2 separate regions of the Homo sapiens genome follow, and region 1 is linked to region 2. Evidence: fine-mapped expression QTL. A gene starts in region 2. The other region holds a variant in brackets. All regions are shown on one strand. Distances are from middle to middle. Region 1 overlaps ZNF587 (zinc finger protein 587). Region 2 holds the start of ZNF837 (zinc finger protein 837).

The links. PIP is the estimated chance that this variant, and not a neighbour inherited with it, causes the effect.
Region 1: its variant is fine-mapped to the expression of ZNF837 in prefrontal cortex (CommonMind, PIP 0.95).

The regions. Positions count from the first base shown.
Region 1 is chr19:57,860,539-57,868,992 of GRCh38, reverse strand. ZNF587 (zinc finger protein 587) reads right to left here. Exons shown (of 3, transcript NM_032828.4): 3 at 3,876-8,454. It also overlaps the pseudogene UBE2CP5. Among named protein-coding and RNA genes, the nearest start is that of ZNF587, 15 kb to the right of the region's middle. The variant AT/T (reference allele first, on the strand shown) is at 4,864.
Region 2 is chr19:58,375,876-58,384,810 of GRCh38, reverse strand. ZNF837 (zinc finger protein 837) reads left to right here and starts at 3,781. Exons shown (of 3, transcript NM_138466.2): 1 at 3,781-3,870. It overlaps LOC105372484 (a long non-coding RNA gene), which reads right to left and starts at 7,228. Exons shown (of 2, transcript XR_936130.2): 1 at 6,702-7,228; 2 at 5,786-6,026. RefSeq lists a silencer at 3,520-4,029 and enhancers at 4,380-4,439, 3,974-4,515, 4,470-4,699, 4,516-5,057.

The DNA of each region.
Region 1 (8,454 bases), 520 kb after region 2:
TCATCACAAGGGCTCCACCAAGGTTTAAATTAAAAGACAAAAGAAAAATAGTACCACAGCTCAAGATACAGAGTTCTACACAGAAATCACGGAAAGGGCAGACCATCTAAGGGAAAATTAAAAAGACAACACAAGGATAGGCTGGGCAGCCTGGGTCAGAGCTCCTGGCTGGTGACCTACTTTGAGTAGCTTTCTTGCAGGTACTTCCTTATTTTTATTTTTATTTTATTTTATTTTTTTTTGAGGCAGAGTTTCACTCTTGTTGCCCAGGCTGGAGTGCAATAGCGAGATCTCGGCTCACTGCAACCTCCACCTCCCAGGTTCAAGTGATTCTCCTGCCTCAGCCTCCCGAGTAGCTGGGATTACAGGCATGCGCCACCACACTTGGCTAATTTTTTTATTTTTTTAAATAGGGATGACATTTCTCCATGTTTGTCAGGCCTTGGACTCTCTACGTCAGGTGATCCATCCACCCACCTCGGCCTCCCAAAGTGCTGGGATTACAGGTGTGAGCCACTGCGCCTGACCCTTGCAGGTACTTCTTAAAGCTATGGGGTTTTCCCAGAGCTTGGTAGCATGTGTGTTCAAAGGGCTATCAATGTTGAGTTGTCCTAGCAGGCACTGGATAGAGAGCAGGATGGTCCTGATATCATACGGGGCAGACCACTTCTCCTTCAGGATGTCCAGGCATATGTTACCCTGGGTGTCCACGTTAGGGTGGTAGCAGGGTGTGAGGAACTTCACTGTGGGTGCATCGTAAAGGTGGGTAGTCATTGAGGAACTCCAGCAAGAGCTTATACCTCAGATCTTCATACACTGTGCCAGCTGCTTCATGGATGGTGTCCATTTGATAAGGCTTTCAGGGTAGGCAGAAATTCTTTTGTCACCAGGCATCATGAGGGTCATCAGCTCCTGCTGTAGCCTTTTGGCTACAGGGCCCCAGGCAGTGCCCCTGCTGGGCTCAGCTCCTTTATGGGCGGTGGCGACACTAACAGTGGCTGGGTCAAAGTTTTGTGAGGCTATCTGGGTGGCACTGGCAGAGAGACAAGAACTCAGAAAATGTGACTGCATCTGTGATCATCATGTTTATTTTTTATTTTTATTTATTTATTTTGAGACGGAGTCTTGCTCTTGTCACCCAGGCTGGAGTGCAGTGCTGTGATCTCGGCTCACCACAACCTCTGCCTCCTGAGTTCAAGCCATCCTCTTGCCTCAGCCTCCCGAGTAGCTGGGATTACAGGCACGTGCCACCACGCCCGGCTAGGTTTTTGCATTTTTAGTAGAGACGGTTTCTTCAAAGTTGATCGGGCTGGTCTCAAACTCCCAACTTCAGGTGATCCACCCACCTTGGCCTCCCAAAGTGCGGGGTTACAGGTGTGAGCCACTGCACCTGGCTGAAAAATAATGCGGTGGCTCTGGCCAACATGGTGAAACCCTGTCTCTACTAAAAATACAAAAATGAGCTGGGCTTAGTGGCACACACCTGTAATCCCAGCTACTTGGGAGGCTGAGGCAAGAGAATCACTTGAACCCAGGAGACGGAGGTTGCAGTGAGCCGAGATCACGCCACTGCACTCCAGCCTGGGCGACAAAGTGAGGCTCCATCTCAAAAAAAAAAAAAAAAGGAAATAGTTTTAAGTTCTCCCATCCAAGTAGTAACCAGGCCCGACCCTGCTTAGCTTCCGAGATCAGACGAGATCAGGCGCGTTCAGGGTGGTATGGCCATAGACGGAAATAGTTTTAAGTTCTCAATCAACTTCAACTGAATGGTTAGTGGTCAGTTTTGTAATCACAATGACATTCTTGCAAACAAATACAATGTGTGGCATCTCTCTTTGATATACTGGATAGTTAAAAATTGTTTTAAAGTTTTGCCTAATATTTTGCGATTTATCTCAATGTAATCTGTATAAGTAGTAAAATTATAGATGACTCCTTTCCTTTTTTTTTTTTTTAAGACAAGGATCTAGCTCTGTTGCCTAGGCTGGAGGGCAATGGCATGATCACAGCTTACTGCAACCTCTGCTCCTGCATTCAAGCGATTCTCATGCCTCAGCCTCCCGAACATCTGGGATTACAGGTGCATGATACCACATCCGGCTAATTTTTGGATTTTTAGTAGAGACTGTTTCACGGTATTGGCCTGACTGGTCTCGAACTCCTGTCCTCAAGTGACCCACCTGTCTTGGCCTCCCAAAGTGGGATTACAGGCATGAACCACTGCACCCAGCCTAAATGACTACCTTTTATGTTGCACATTTTAAGTAACTTTTGTCATTTCCATCTTGGGTTGTTGCTTTTTTGTTTTTTGAGACAGAATCTCGCTCTGTCGCCCAGGCTGGAGTGCAGTGGCCTGATCTTGGCTCACTGCAAACTCCGCCTCCTGGGTTCATGCCATTCTCCTGCCTCAGCCTCCTGAGTAGCTGGGACAACAGGTGCGTGCCACCACACCTGGCTAACTTTCGGTATTTTTAGTAGAGATGGGGTTTCACTGTGTTAGCCAGGATGGTCTCGATCTCCTGACCTTGTGATCCGCCCACCTCATCCTCTCAAAGTGCTGGGATTACAGGTGTGAGTCACTGTGCCCGGCCGTGTTGTCACTTTTAATGTGCTTTGGTTTTAATTTTCTGTAGAAAAGTAAAACAAATTTTTCCCTTTAAATTTAATCCTTGCTTTTAATGACTTGTGCACCCCAATTTACTAAGAAAATAAACCATTTAAAAAATAATCTTGAGTTGGGCATAGTAGTTTATTCCTGTAATCCCAACACATTGGGAGGCAGAGGCAGGCTGTTGACTTGAGCCGAGGAGATTGAGACCAGCCTGGGCAACATGGCAAAACCCTGTGTCCACAAAAAATGCAAAAATTAGCCAGGCAGGGTGCCTGTCTGTAGTCCCAGCTACCCAGCAGGCTGAGGTGGCACGATCACTTGAACCCTGGGGGTGGTCAAGGCTGCAGTGAGCCATGATCATGCTACTGCATTCCAGCCTGGGCAGCAGAGCAAGATTCTCTCCAAAAATAACATAAAAAGTATGTGTGTGTGTGTGTATATGTACACACATATATACGTATATATGTGTGTACATATACACACACACACACATATATGTATATATATAAAAAATGCCTTTATGTGTAGGCTTGATTTAATTTTCAATTTTATGTGAAGCATAAATTGAGCAGTTTTTCTATCTCAATTTTTAATCTATTTTAACATTGTATTACATTATCTATTATTTTCTCTCCAAATTGATAAGCAATGTACACCCCTCAGACATGGACTGTGATTTCTTTTTTTTTTTTTTGAGACAGAGTCTTGCTCTGTTGCCCATGCTGTAGTGCAGTGCCACGATCTTAACTCACTGCAACCTCTGCCTGCCAGGTTCAAGCAATTCTATGCCTCAGCCTCCTGAGTAGCTGGGATTACAGGTGCTAATTTTTGCATTTTTAGTAAAGACATGGTTTAACCATGTTGGTCAGGCTGGTCTGGAACTCCTGACCTCGTGATCCACCCACCTCGGCCTCCTGAAGTGCTGGGATTACAGGCATGAGCCACCACACCCAGCCAGGAAAGTTCCTTATAGATTCTTTCTAGCTATTGAAAAGAGAATTATAATCATCTAAAGAGGATTAATTCAACACTTAGGGAAAGTAGAGGTTAGCAAGAGGAAGTTACTTCTCTTAGAGTATGTGATTCAAAGGAAAAAATGTGCCACATCAAATATACATGGACTGGCTAAACATTTCTAGGTACATGTAGATTTATAAGCCACTGTAAGATTCAACACAATGAGGAAATTACTGGTGTAATAAAAATAAACATTAGATTGATGAAACACAGTAAAATAATTTCAAACAGGAAAGAGGTATGAATCTTTTGTACAAAAAAAGTTTGACATATATTTAATTCACATACAAGCAGGAAGATTAACTTCATAAGAGAATTAACAAAAGTTGTATTAATTCAAGACAAGAGACTGCAGAGACTAAAATTGCTTAGTACTGAAACTTTTGCTTATATAAACTGTAGTTTATGGAGAAAATAAAGAATTTTTTTGTTTTTTTTGAGGCAGGATCTCACTCTATTCCCCAGGCTAGAGTGCGATGGCACCATCTCGGCTGATTGCAACCTCCATTTTCCAGGAAGGCTCTTTAATTCCCCCTGATTACAAAGGTTTTGTGTGAACATAATTTGGTGTAATAAAAAAAAATTTACACCACAAGAGACAAACATACTCTTCAGTGTGTGTGGTCATAATTTGTTTGAACGAGCCCTTTTAAACTTCTAGATATCATTGAAACTCCTATGTTGATTAAAAATCATCAAAGATCTTTCCAGTGAGAAGGATGAAGATATTACTGAGAATGAAGTATCACTATTTCATGTATGTGCCTGTATGTGCTTATATAACATGCTGTAATACAAGGTGACATTTAGGGGCTGAGACTGTTAACATCTGACTGTACCTTGCTATTTGTAACTTACAATCTTATTCACATTTCTCAAGTGCCATGCCTTTAGGTGCCTATACATCATGCTATCATAGGATTTCTAGGGATAAGCCGAGTGCGGTGGCAGATGCCTGTAATCCCAGCACTTTAGGAGGCCGAGGGGGGTGGATCATGAGGTCAGGAGTTTGAGACCAGCCTGGCTAACGTAGTGAAAGCCCATCTCTACTAAAAATACAAAAATTAGCTGGGCGTGGTGGAGGGAACCTATAGGCCCAGCTACTCGGGAGGCTGAGGCAAGAGAATCACTTGAACCTGGGAGGCGGAGGTTGCAGTGAGCCGAGACCATGCCATTGCACTTCAGCCTGGGTGACAGAGTGAGACTCTGTCTCAAAAAAAAAAAAAAAAAAAAAA[AT/T]TTAGGGATAATATCTAAGCCCATATAACATGCTGTTATAAAGTTATAAAGTATAACATTTATGGATTGAGTTTTTTTTTTTTTTTTGAGATGATGTGTCTCTCTGTCACCAGGTTGGAGTGCACTGGTGTGATATTGGCTCAGTGCACCTTCCACCTCCCAGGTTCAACCGATTTTCTGGCCTCAGCCTCCCGAGTAGCTGGGACTACAGGCACCCGCCACCATGCCCGACTAATTTTTGTATTTTTAGTAGAGACAGGAATTCACAATATTGGCCAGGGTGGTCTTGAACTCCTGACCTTGTGATCCGCCCACCTCAGCCTCCCAAAGTGGTGGGATTACAGGCCTCAGCCACCACACCTGGCCAAGATTCTTCATATAGCTGATTATCTTGCCATTTCTAACTTACAATCTTTTATCCACATTTCTTAACTTTCTTTTGTTACACTAAACGGGACAGGAAGTCTTAACTCTTGTATCCACCAAGCATGTTAGGAAAATAACAGAGATTCCATTAGCAAATTAAGCTCCCCAAAAAACACAAATACATATCTAAAAAATGTTGCAAAGACAAGAAGTGGCCAGGGCGTGTTGGCTCACGCCTATAATCCCAGCACTTTGGGAGGCTAAGGCGGGCGGATCACGAGGTCTGGAGATCGAGACCATCCTGGCAAATACAGTAAAACCCCGTCTCTACTAAAGAAAAGAATACAGGCCAGGTGCAGTGGCTCACGCCTGTAATTCCAGCACTTTGGGAGGCCGAGGTGGGTGGATCACGAGGTCAGGAGTTTGAGACCAGCCTGACCAACATGGTGAAACCTGGTCTCTGCTAAAAATACAAAAATTAGCTGGGTGTGGTGGCACGCACCTGTAATCCCAGCTAAAGAGGTGGCTGAGGCAAGGAGAAGTGCTTGAATCCAGGAGGTAGAAGTTGCAGTGAGCTGAGATTGCGACACGGCACTCCAACCTGGGCAAGAGAGCAAGACTCTGTCTCAAGAAACAAAACAAAAAAATTAAGCTGACGTGGTGGGCGCTTGTGGTCCCAGCTACTCAGGAGGCTGAGGCAAGAGAATGGCGTGAACCCGGGAGGTGGAGTTGCAGTGAGCCGAGATCGTGCCACTGCACTCCAGCCTGGGTGAAAGAGTGAGACTTCTCAAAAAAAACACAAAGTGTCCACTCAATAACTTTGCTTGAAACTGTCTTCATGTTCTTCACTTCACAAATATAAAGCTGTTACAGTGGACTTTGTGAGGTTCCATGTTTTTGGTCAGCCATAAGAGGAAGAATAATTCAGAGTGAGAGGAAACAGATTCTAGGCAGCCCTCAGGGAAGTTGAGGAGGTGGCACCCTGCCTCCGGGTCCCTCAGAATGTCCCATCTCCCTGTCAGTATCAGTGTCCCAGATAATCTTCTTCTGATTGGGACATTTCCCTGGGAACAGTGGTTACTTGCCAAATTCACATTTACGGCCAAAACTGTGGCTGCAGTGTCGACATTCATGCAAGTGGGGAAATGGGCATGTGACCCCTGAAAAAAGATTCTGGATTCCATAATCTCACCTTGCTGAGAAGAAACTGCCATTTCAGCAGAAAGTGCAATGACAGTTTCTGCACAGGGACTGGAGATTATCTCTAGAAAAGAGCTTGGAGTGAGGAAATTAGTTAATGTGGATGAATGACGTTACCCATGGAGAATGAAGTAAGTAGCTAGAAGACAAAAGCCTCAGAACACATAAATCTCAATGGGTATTGAGTAGAGGACTCAGAGCTCTGAGATAATTGGAGCTCATGGCTATCCTAGAACTTGGATAACATAAAGTTCTTGTTTCTACAAAGTGTGTATCCTTTCCATATGTGAGAACTGTGAGGAAGTACAAACTTGGAACAAAAGAAATAGTAAGGTAATCTTAGAAAGATGTTGAAAAGAAAGCTATGGTGGCATCTTAACTGTTTCACTGCCTGGCAATCTATATGTATTGTCACTTTGGGACGCTTATGATTCCACATGAAGTGGATAACCAGCTCATAGTTCTTGTGGTACTGAAAACCAAGTATTCAGCCAGGTACAGTGGCTGACACCTGTAATCCCAGCACTTTGGGAGGCCGAGGCAGGTGGATCACTTGAGCTCAGAAGGTAGAGAGCAGCCTGGGTAACATGGTGAAACCCCATCTCTACTAAAATAAATAAATAAAATTAGCCAGGTATAATGGCACATGCCTGTAGTCCCAGCTACTCAGGAGGCTGAGGCAGAATCGCTTGAACACAGGAGGTGGAGGTTGCAGTGGGCCGAGATCATGCCACTTCACTGTAGCTTAGGAGACAGAGCTAGACTCCATCTGGAAAAAAAAAAAAAAAAGAAAACCAAATATTCCTTGCAGCAAAGTGACATCACTGAAGAATGAATGAAGTCCAACATACGTCTTTGTTATTTCATTATTTTTAAATATATTAATGAAATGGGAAATAGATAAAATTCATTTTAAAAAACAAGCCTACAGGTGAGGCCAGGCAGGGTGCCTCACCCCTGTAGACCAAGCACTTTTGGAGCCTAGGCAAGTGGATCGCCTGAGCCCAGGAGTTCGCGATCAGACTGGGCAAAAAGGTAAAACCCTCTCTACAGAAAATACAAAAGTTATCCAGTTGTGGTGGTGCATACCTGTATTTCCAGCTACTCTGGAGGCTGAGGTGGGCAGAGTGCTTGAGCCCAGGAAGCAGAGGTTGCAATGAGCTGAGATTGTGCCACGGTACTCTAGCCTGGGAGACAGAGCGAGACTTTGTCTCAAAACAAAAAAAATGCAAAACATAAACCACTGACTCAAAAGTTATAACCACTTATTAAAATAATAAACAATTTCAAATACTAACCATACTCCCTCTTGGTAAGATAGAACAGAAATTCTTGGACACTGATGGTAGATAGATATACAAATGAGCAATAATTTCATTCTTAAGTCATAGTTTGGCATTGCTTAAAAAGTTGTACATTAGGCCAAGCACAGTAGGTCACACCTGAGAAGCTGAGGCAGGCAGATCACTTGAGGTCAGTTCATAACAAGCCTGGCCAGCATGGTGAAACCCCATTGCTAATAGAAATAAAAAAAAAAGTTATCCAGGCATGGTGGTGCACACCGGTAATCCCTGCTACTCGGGAGGCTGAGGCAGAAGAATCAGTTGAACTTGGGAGGCAGAGGTTGCAGTGAGCCGAAATCATGCCACCTAACTCCCGCCTGGGTGACAGAGTGAGACTCTGTCTCAAAAAAGAGTTGTACTTTAATCTATCACGTGACTCAGGCACTGCACACCACCATATTACCATAGTGAAACATACCTACATGAACAACTGCATTCAAATATAGCAGTTTCATTTATAACAGACAAAAACAAGAAGCATGTCATTCTTTTTTCTTTTTGTAGAGAGGAGGTCTGGCTATGTTGCCCAGGCTGATCTCTAACTCCTGGCCTCCAATGAACCACCTTGTCCTCCCAAAGCATCAGGTTTACAAGCATGAGCCACCATGCCTGGTTCAGCATGTCATATTCTAAGCAATACGAAAAGAATGAAGGCCAGGTGCAGAGGCTCATGCCTGTAAT
Region 2 (8,935 bases):
GTCACTTTGCCTGTCCACCCTACCAGCCACAGTCTTACTGTTAGCTGATCTTACATCCTTGTGATGGCTCCTTTTTTTTTTTTGTGACGGAGTCTCACTCTGTTGCCCAGGCTGGAGTGCAGTGGCGCAATCTTGGCTCACTGCAAGCTCCGCCTCCTGGGTTCATGCCATTCTCCTGCCTCAGCCTCCCGAGTAGCTGGGACTACAGGCGCCCGCCACCACGCCCGGCTATTTTTTTTGTATTTTTAGTAGAGATGGGGTTTCACTGTTAGCCAGGATGGTCTCGATCTCCTAACCTCGTGATCCGCCTGCCTCGGCCTCCCAAAGTGCTGGGATTACAGGTGTGAGCCACCGCACCTGGCCGTGATAGCTCCTTAATGCCTTTACTGGCACCTTGGTTGTCTGTTGAAGTCCCCAGCCTGATTATCAACTCGTTTGGAGTGTGCTGGATTCAGTCCACCCAGTTGCCTGGCAGAGCCAAGCCTGGCCCTGCCGCATCCCAAACTTGATCTTGTGCCCATGGCTGATACTTCATGGGCTACTTTGGCCTAGCCACTGTCTGCTTCTATGGGATGCCCACCTGTAATGGATTGAATGGTGGCCCCCAAAAAGGTAAGTTCATGCCCTAATACCCAGACCCAGCGAATGTGACCTATTGGAAAAAAATCTTTGCAGATGTAATTTAGTCAAGGATCCCAAGATGAGAGCATCTAGGATTAGTAGGGTGGACCCTAAATCCAATGACAAGTGTCCTTATAAGAGACAGAAGAGGGCCGGGCATGGTGGCTCATGCCTGTAATCCCAGCACTTTGGGAGGCCGAGGCGGGCACATCACGAGGTCAGGAGATCGAGACCATCTTGGCTAACACAGTGAAACCCCATCTCTACTAAAAATACAAAAAAATTAGCCAGGCGTGGTGGCGGGCGCTTGTAGTCTCAGCTACTCGGGAGGCTGAAGCAAGAGAATCACTTGAACCTGGGCGGTGGAGGTTGCAGTGAGCCAAGATCGCACCACTTCACTCCAGCCTGGGTGACAGAATGGGACTCCGTCTCACACACACACACACACAAAGATTCTTAAGGAAATGTGGCCGAGTCATCCAGGATGCTTCAGCCACTGGGGTTTGCTTTCGTGGCTCACCAGCACCTTCTCCCCTCCTGGGAACTGCCAACTTCCATTTCTCCTCTGTTCTTCCAGATCCTACAACCAGGATTCTGTGTTGGGGGCCAAGATGCCCTGCTGAAGCCTCTATTCCCTGAGGCTGCTTCGCAGTAAGCTACCCCAGGCCCTCAGGAGAGGTGTGAAATGGAGCAGAGGCCCTTTGCTGAAGACAGCATAGAGCCAGAGGGGGACCTCTGCGGAGGGATGGCCGGTAGCAGGACAACTCTCCTGGGTGCAGGGTCCCAGGCCTACAGACATAGAATGAGCCCCAGACTGGGGACCTGTGGGATTGGTAAAGTTGGACCCCTTGGGTGGGAGCCCCACTGGAGCTTCCTCTCCAGGTCCTTGCCTGATTCAGTCTCATTCCTGAAATCGCTCCTGTGTAACCATTGTCACAAGATGCTTCTCTGGTGCTGCCCCTGCATGAACCCTGCAGGGTCCACTTAGACAACAGGCTTGTGTAGAAGTGAAGAAAGCCTACAGACTGTCACAGCCCCCATAGCCGGTCCCCTCCAGACAAGTCCCCCGCACCTGTGCCTGCCAAGTGGTTAGGCCTTTCATTGGTGCTTCAAACTCCACTCCAGGGCTGCCAGTCACCCCATGCCAGCCCTGCAGGGACAAGGCCTTTGTGTGGTGGCCAGGCCTGTGGTACCACCAGAATCTTCACTCCAGAGGGAGGCCCTTTCTGTGCCTGGGAGTGGGAAGTTCTTCCACATAGGCTCAAGACTCCTCCAGTAGCAGTGCATCCACAGGTGTGAGAAATCCTACTTGTGTCAGGCCGGGTGCAGTGGCTCATGCCTGAATCCCAGCACTTTGTGAGGCCGAGGCGGGTGGATCATGAGGTCAGGAATTCAAGACCAGCCTGGCCAAGATGGTGAAACCCCATCTCTACTAAAAATACAAAAATTAGCCGGGCGAGGTCGTGGGCACCTATAATCCCAGCTACTCGGGAGGCTGAGGCAGAGAACTGCTTGAACCTGGGAGGCGGAAGTTGCAGTGAGCTGAGATCGCGGCCACTGCACTCCAGCCTGGGCAACAGAGCAAGACTGTCTCAAAAAAGAAAAAAAAAAAGAAATCCCACTTGTGTCCCAATTGGGGCCAGTGGCTGAACCTGTCAGACATCTGCACACCCACACAGAGCCAGCAGCTGCACTCCTTTCTCTGTGACAATTGTCAAGGCCTTCCTGTGCAACTCTCTTCAGCCACCAAGGGACCCACAAGGCGGGCAGCCCTCCAAGTGCCCTTCAGCCTCCTGCTCGCCCTCAATTAGCTTGGTAAGCCCTGAGTTTTGTACTTGGGCAGGGAGATAGACCTCCTGACAAGGCTTTCGATGTGCAGACACCCAAAGGATGGAGAAAGGGAGTGGAACAGTCCCAGCATCCCTGAAGCAGATGCAGTGGAGGCAGAAAGGTGGGGCAAACTGGGTCGTTACATGCAATATATGTGCTGGACTGGCCAACAAAATTAGATGTCCCTATTGAGGGCAGGAGCCACACAATAGATGGGGGCAAGAGCTGGGGGTTACAAATGGGTAGGAGGCGTGACCAGTTCATCCTACCTGGGAGGGCCCGTAGAGTCAGCAACACCCAAAGGGGCTGGGGAGGCTGTGGTTCCCCAATGGGGCCGCACGTGTTAGAATCAACTAGGAGCCGGACTAGGGGCCTGGCGCAGTGGCTCAAGCCTGTACTCCCAGCACTCTGGAAGGCTGAGACACGAGGATCGCTTGAGCCCAGGAGTTCCAGACCAGTCTGGGCAACATATGGAGACCCTATCTCTAAAATAAATAAATAAATAAAAATAAAAAAACTATCCAGGCATGGTGGCTCCCACCTATAGTCCCAGCTATTCGGGAGGGTGAGGTGGGAGGGTCGCTTCAGTACAGGAGTTCGAGACCAGCCTGGGCGACATAGTGGGAGGAGGAAGGGAGGGGGAGAAGGAGGGGGAGGGAGAGAAGAAAGAAAATTAGCCGGGCGTGGTGGCGCGCGCCCCTGTTAACAGCTACTCTGGAGGCTGAAGTAGGAGGATCGCTTGAGCTCAGGAGGTCGAGGCTGCAGTGAACCGTGATGGTGTCACTGCATTAGCCTGGGCGACAGAGCGAGACCCCGTCTCAAAAAAGCAAACCAAAAAAAATACAAAAAAATAGACTTAACTGAGGAGTTTTGACGCGCATATGCTCGGGCCCAGTCCCAGATTCTGATGTTATCGGTCTGACTCGCAACGCGCTCACCAAGACACTTCAGAGCTCCCCAGGTGCTTCCCAGCCCAACTCTCCCACCCGAGGGGAGCCTGCGAACCGCAAGTCGGTTCCGGGTTGGGACCTCTTAGAAATCAGATTGGGAGAGGAGGCTATCAATCATAATCATGACCAGTCACCCGCTTTCACGAGAAGGAATGGGCGGGACCCTACGTCCCCGTCCAGAACGCCGTTTCTTTGGCGACGACTTAGGTCCACGCCCCGCCTTTTAGGTGTAGCCGGCCTCTGTTTCTATGATAACCGAAGCCCAAGCCTCTCCCTACACCGCTTTCTCCGCAGCGTCAAAGCGGGACATGACGGGACTACGTTTCCCAGCAGTCCCCGCGCGGGTTCCCGCCTGCGCTTGCTGTGGCCCGGGTCCCTCAGTGCCGCGGCGGCCCGGAGGTGGCGGGAGGACGGCTCCGCGCTGCATGCGGGGCGGGGACCAGGGACCCGTGCGGGCCGCCTCCAGAGAGTAAGTGGCATTCTGCGCGGACCCGCAACCTCGGCCTGCGAGGCGGGGACCTCCCGGCGCATAGCGCGGCCACCACCCCAGTCCCCTCTCCACCTCCGCGCGCGGGGTCCGGGGCAGAGGCGTGACGCCGCGCACTTCCGGTCCTCGCGCTCCGGGTCCGGACCGGCCACACAGCACTCGCGACCTTGAGTTCCGGGCGGGACGGGCTTCTGTAGTTCTGGCCCCCGCGTTTCCGTGCTGGGTGTCATTGAAGCCCGCGAGGGGAGGCTCCAGGCCCGGGACCCATCCTGGCGGCCTGCGGCTCTCGGAGTCAAGCCCACCTGCTAGCCGAGGCCGACGCCGGCCTCCCTACCGTCTCTGCCCCCGCATCCTGGCCTTTGCACTTTGCTCTTTCCTTGTCTGCAGACCGGTTTCATGCCCCCTCTTCACAGAGGCCCGAAGAATCCGCTGCCTCCCTCCCTGGCGCCCTCGCGCTGCTCCCTGTCTGATGTTCTTCACGTCTTTTTCTCTCTTAAACGGTCTCTTGTTCATTTCTTCTTGTCTGCGGTCCCCTCCTTCACTCACTATTAGAGCAGGATGCAGCACCGTTTGGCCCTGACACAGTGGATGTCCTGCGAGGGTTGAAGCTTGCTAATCCTTGAGGGTGGAGGCACTGTCGGGAGGACAGACACAGAAGGGAGCTGTGCCTGCACTCAGAGGACATTTCTTCTGCTGTACAGTGCATGATGCACTGTTCTTCCCATTGCGTGCACAGTGTAGAATTGGACATAGGGGCTAGAGTCTGTGTCCCCTGGGACTGTCAGTGTGGGTGAGGTTGGTCTGTGGCTCAGAGAGGTGGAGCCACGCTGAGCTGGGCACTAGCCTGTGTCCTCCACACCTCAGAGCCACCAACGTTGACTTCCCTGCACATTCTGTTTTTGTTGTTGTTGTTGTTGTTGTTGTTTTGAGACGGAGTTTCGCTCTTGTTGCCCAGGCTGGAGTGCAGTGGCGCGATCTCGGCTCACTGCAACCTCCGCCTCCCGGGTTCAAGCGATTCTCCAGCCTCAGCCTCCCGAGTAGCTGGGATTACAGGCATGCACCACCGTGCCTGGCGACTTCCCTGCACATTCTCTTGGGCAAATAAGACCTCATTGTGCCGTGTGCAACCTCCATGAGGATGTTGAACCTCACTAGCTTTCCTGTGTGTGCTGTTGCTCTGCAGTTCTGCAGGGCTCAGCCTTGGCCACGTTAACCTCTCAGTCCCCCTAAATTGGTAACTCTGCATCCTGTTCCCAACACCAGAAGCCCTAAGGACAACTAGAAAGGCTGGGCGAGCACCCAGGTGCAAGCATGCTCACCTGGGGCAGGTGGGAGGTCACTGTAAGAACAGCCTGGGAGAGCTGTAATGCACCATCAAGGACGGGCTCCTGGGACCTGGGACCCAGAGCCTCGATTGTGTTTGCTGTGCTCAGCCTCAGATCATGGGTCCATGGCTGGAATGCCACCCACCTACAGGTGGGATAGTTGGACAGTGCATCCTGGGAGCAGATCAAGGAGACGAAGAGACTCGGCCATGGTCCACAGCTCCCACCTGCTGTGTCTGGTGCTGGGAGGCAGGTTCTTGTTGCAGCAGAGGAGCCACCCCTGGGAGCAGGGCATCTGGGGACCAATCCGAAGATGCTGTTAGCACATGGCTAGCAGGTGCCCCTCAGCCCCCACCTCCCACAAGTTCAGGGTCCCTTTCTGCCAAGTGGGGACTGCTGGTTCTTCAGGACAACCCAGCTTCCCCAACCCTCTGTTCAGACACTAAGCAGTCCTCTGACTCCCCATCACTAGGGATCAGGAGAGCCCCTTACAACACACACATTCTGTCGAGGGTGCTAGACCAGTCTCTATTAGTTTCTGTGGCTGCTATAACACACTACCACAAACTGGGCAGTTTAAAACAACAGAAATTTACTCTCACAGTCCTGGAAGCCAGAAGTCTGAAATCAAGGTGTCAGCAGTACTGTGCTCTCTGACGGCTCTGGGTGGGGGTCTTTCCTTGCCTCTTCCGGCTTCTGGCGGCTCCGGGTGTTCCTTGGAGTGTGGCTGCATCACTCCAATATCAGCCTCCATCTTCACATGGACCACTCTTCTCCGTGTCAGAACTCCCTTTGCCTCCTTCATAAGGACACCTGTCATTGGAATTAGGGCACACCCAGGTTATTCAGGGTGATCTCATCACAAGATCCTTAATTATGTCTGCAAAGACCTAATAAGGTCACATTCTGAGAGTTCCGGGGTTAGGACATTGGATATATCTTTTGCAGCCTCCTTCAGTGGAACCTGCCTGATCCTGGGTGACCTCATGTGCCCATCCATTCTTGGGCCTGTCCACTGATTCCATGGTGATCAATTGTCCCTGTTTGGCCAGGCTGTCCCAGGTATGGTCTTTCACCCTGGGAAGTCCTCAGCCCCTAAGTCCCTAGAGTTCTAGGAAGTCATGCTGAGTGCTGGTCCTAGCCCTGCTCATGCCACCAGCTGTTGTACAGACTGTGACATGAAGCCAGCAGCCTTGGAGCTAATAGCAAGGCAGGTGCCCAAGTCCCTCCATCCCTGACATCTGGGTCTCTGTGACCTGGAGTTGTGTCAGAGAGGTCCAGATCCTGGCTGTGGGGCTTCTGGGATGGCACATTGTGAAAGCGGGGCCCCTGACCTCCTGCTGCTCAGCATCCATAGTGGCATGCTCCCTCCTCCGTGTAAAGGGCTGGAGTCCACACTGGTACCCCCATCAGAGTCTATGGCTGGGGAGTTCCCTGCCCTATGTGTGGGGACCTCAGATCCCAGCCTGGCAATGACCCTGGACCAACCCCTTTAGCAGTGGGTCCTGGTGGCTTTCTCAGGAGCTCTTCAGTCAGCCTGGCCTCTCAGAGGTAGACGAGGGAACACTACAAAACCTGCAGTGCTCAGAGACAGAGGCTTGAGAGAGTGTGGGGAGGTGGGCAGGATGGGCCTGCCCCGAATAGCCAGGTCCACGGCCAGCAGATGGACTCGAGAGAGAGAAGCCGACACCTGTGAGAAACGCCAGATACTGTGTGTGGTGGTTGGGAGCCAGCAGGCAGCCTGGGTGTGGACAGAGCTCCATGGTCAGACAGACCAGAATGTGTGTCTCCATGTCTTGTGTCCTGCCCTCAGTCTCCTCCCTCCCGTCACAACTTCCCATGTGGTGGCAGCAGTGCCCTTGGGTGTGTGCCCCTGTAAGGAATTGCCCTGTGCCCTGAATATCATTCCCAGCGAGCATGTTCAGTTTCTAATGAAGAGTTTTCTTTGCTTTCTTTTTTTGAGATGTGGTCTCACTGTGTTGCCCAGGCTGGCGTGCAGTGGTGCAATTGTAGCTCACTGCAGCCTCAATCTCCCAGGCTCAAGCGATCATCCCACCTTAGCTTCCTGACAGCTGGGGCTACAGGCTTGCACCACCACACCTGGATAGTTTTTTTTTTGAGATGGAGTCTCGTTCTGTCACCCAGGCTGGAGTGCAGTGGCAAGATCTCGGCTCACTACAAGCTCCGCCTCCCGGGTTCACACCATTCTCCTGCAGGCGCCCACCACCACACCTGGCTAATTTTTTCTATTTTTTAGTAGAGACGGGATTTCACCATGTTAGCCAGGATGGTCTCAATCTCCTGACCTCGTGATCTGCCCACCTCCCAAAGTGCTGGGATTACTGGTGTGAGCCACTGCGCCCAGCCTTTTTTTTTTTTTTTTGACGGAGTCTCGCTCTGTCGCCCAGGCTGGAGTGCAGTGGCACGATCTTGGCTCACTGCAACCTCCGCCTCCCGGATTCCAGTGATTCTCCTGTCTCAGCCTCCCGAGTATCTGGGATTACAGGTGCGCGCCACCTCGCCTGGCTAATTTTTTGTATTTTTAGTAGAGATGGGGTTTCACCATGTTAGCCAGGCTGGTCTCAATCTCCTGACCTCGTGATCCACCCACCTTGGCCTCCCAAAGTGTTGGGATTACAGGCATGAGTCACCACGTCCGGCCATTTTTTTTTTTTTTTTTAATAGAGACAGGGTTTCACCATACTGCCCAGGCTGGTCTCTAACTCCTGGGCTCAAGCCATCCACCCACCTTGGCTTCACAAAGTGCTGGGATTATAGGCATAAGCCACTACACCCAGCCAAGTTTTCTCTTTGATATGAGTGAATTAACAGACACCTGGTTAAAGAAAATGCTTTTACCCCAGAGCTTAAGCCTCTGATGTGGAAACTATGCTTGGTACTCTGGTATGCAGTTGACTTGGCTGTGTGTGAGAAATTATTTTATTTTTACCTAGAGATTTAAAAGAACTTGTTTTTCTCTTTTTTTTTCCTTTTTTCTTTTCTTTCTTTTTTTTTTTTTTTTTTTTTTTTTTTTTTTTTTTTTGAGACAGAGTCTTGCTCTGTCACCCAGGCTGGAGTGTAGTGGCCTGATTTTGACTTATGGCAAGCTCTGCCTCCCGGGTTCAAGCCATTCTCCTGCCTCAGCCTCCGGAGTAGCTGGGACTACAGGCGCCTGCCACCACACCCGGCTAATTTTTTGTATTTTTTTTAGTAGAGATGGGGTTTCACCGTGTTAGCCAGGATGGTCTCGATCTCTTGACCTCGTGATCCGCCCGCCTCGGCCTCCCAAAGTGCTGGAATTACAGGCGTGAGCCACCGCGCCCGGCCAAGAACTTGTTTTTCTCAATACAAATGTATTGCTTAAAAGAAACCACCTTCGGCCGGGCGCAGTGGCTTGTGCCTGTGATCCCAGCACCTTTGGGAAGCTGAGGCAGGGGGATCACTTGAGGCCAGGAGTTTGAGACCAGCCAGGCCAACAGGGTGAAACCTCATCTCTACTGAAAATACAAAAATTAGCTGGGCGTGGGGGCAGGCACCTGTAATCCCAGCTACTCGCCAGGCTGAGGCAGGAGAATTGCTTGAACCTGGGAGGCAGAGGTTGCAGTGAGCCGAGATTGTGTCACTGCACTCCAGCCTGGGCAACAGAACGAGACTCTGTGTCAAAAAAATAAATAAATAATAAAATAAAAATAAATAAATAAACCACCTTCATCCCATGCAGT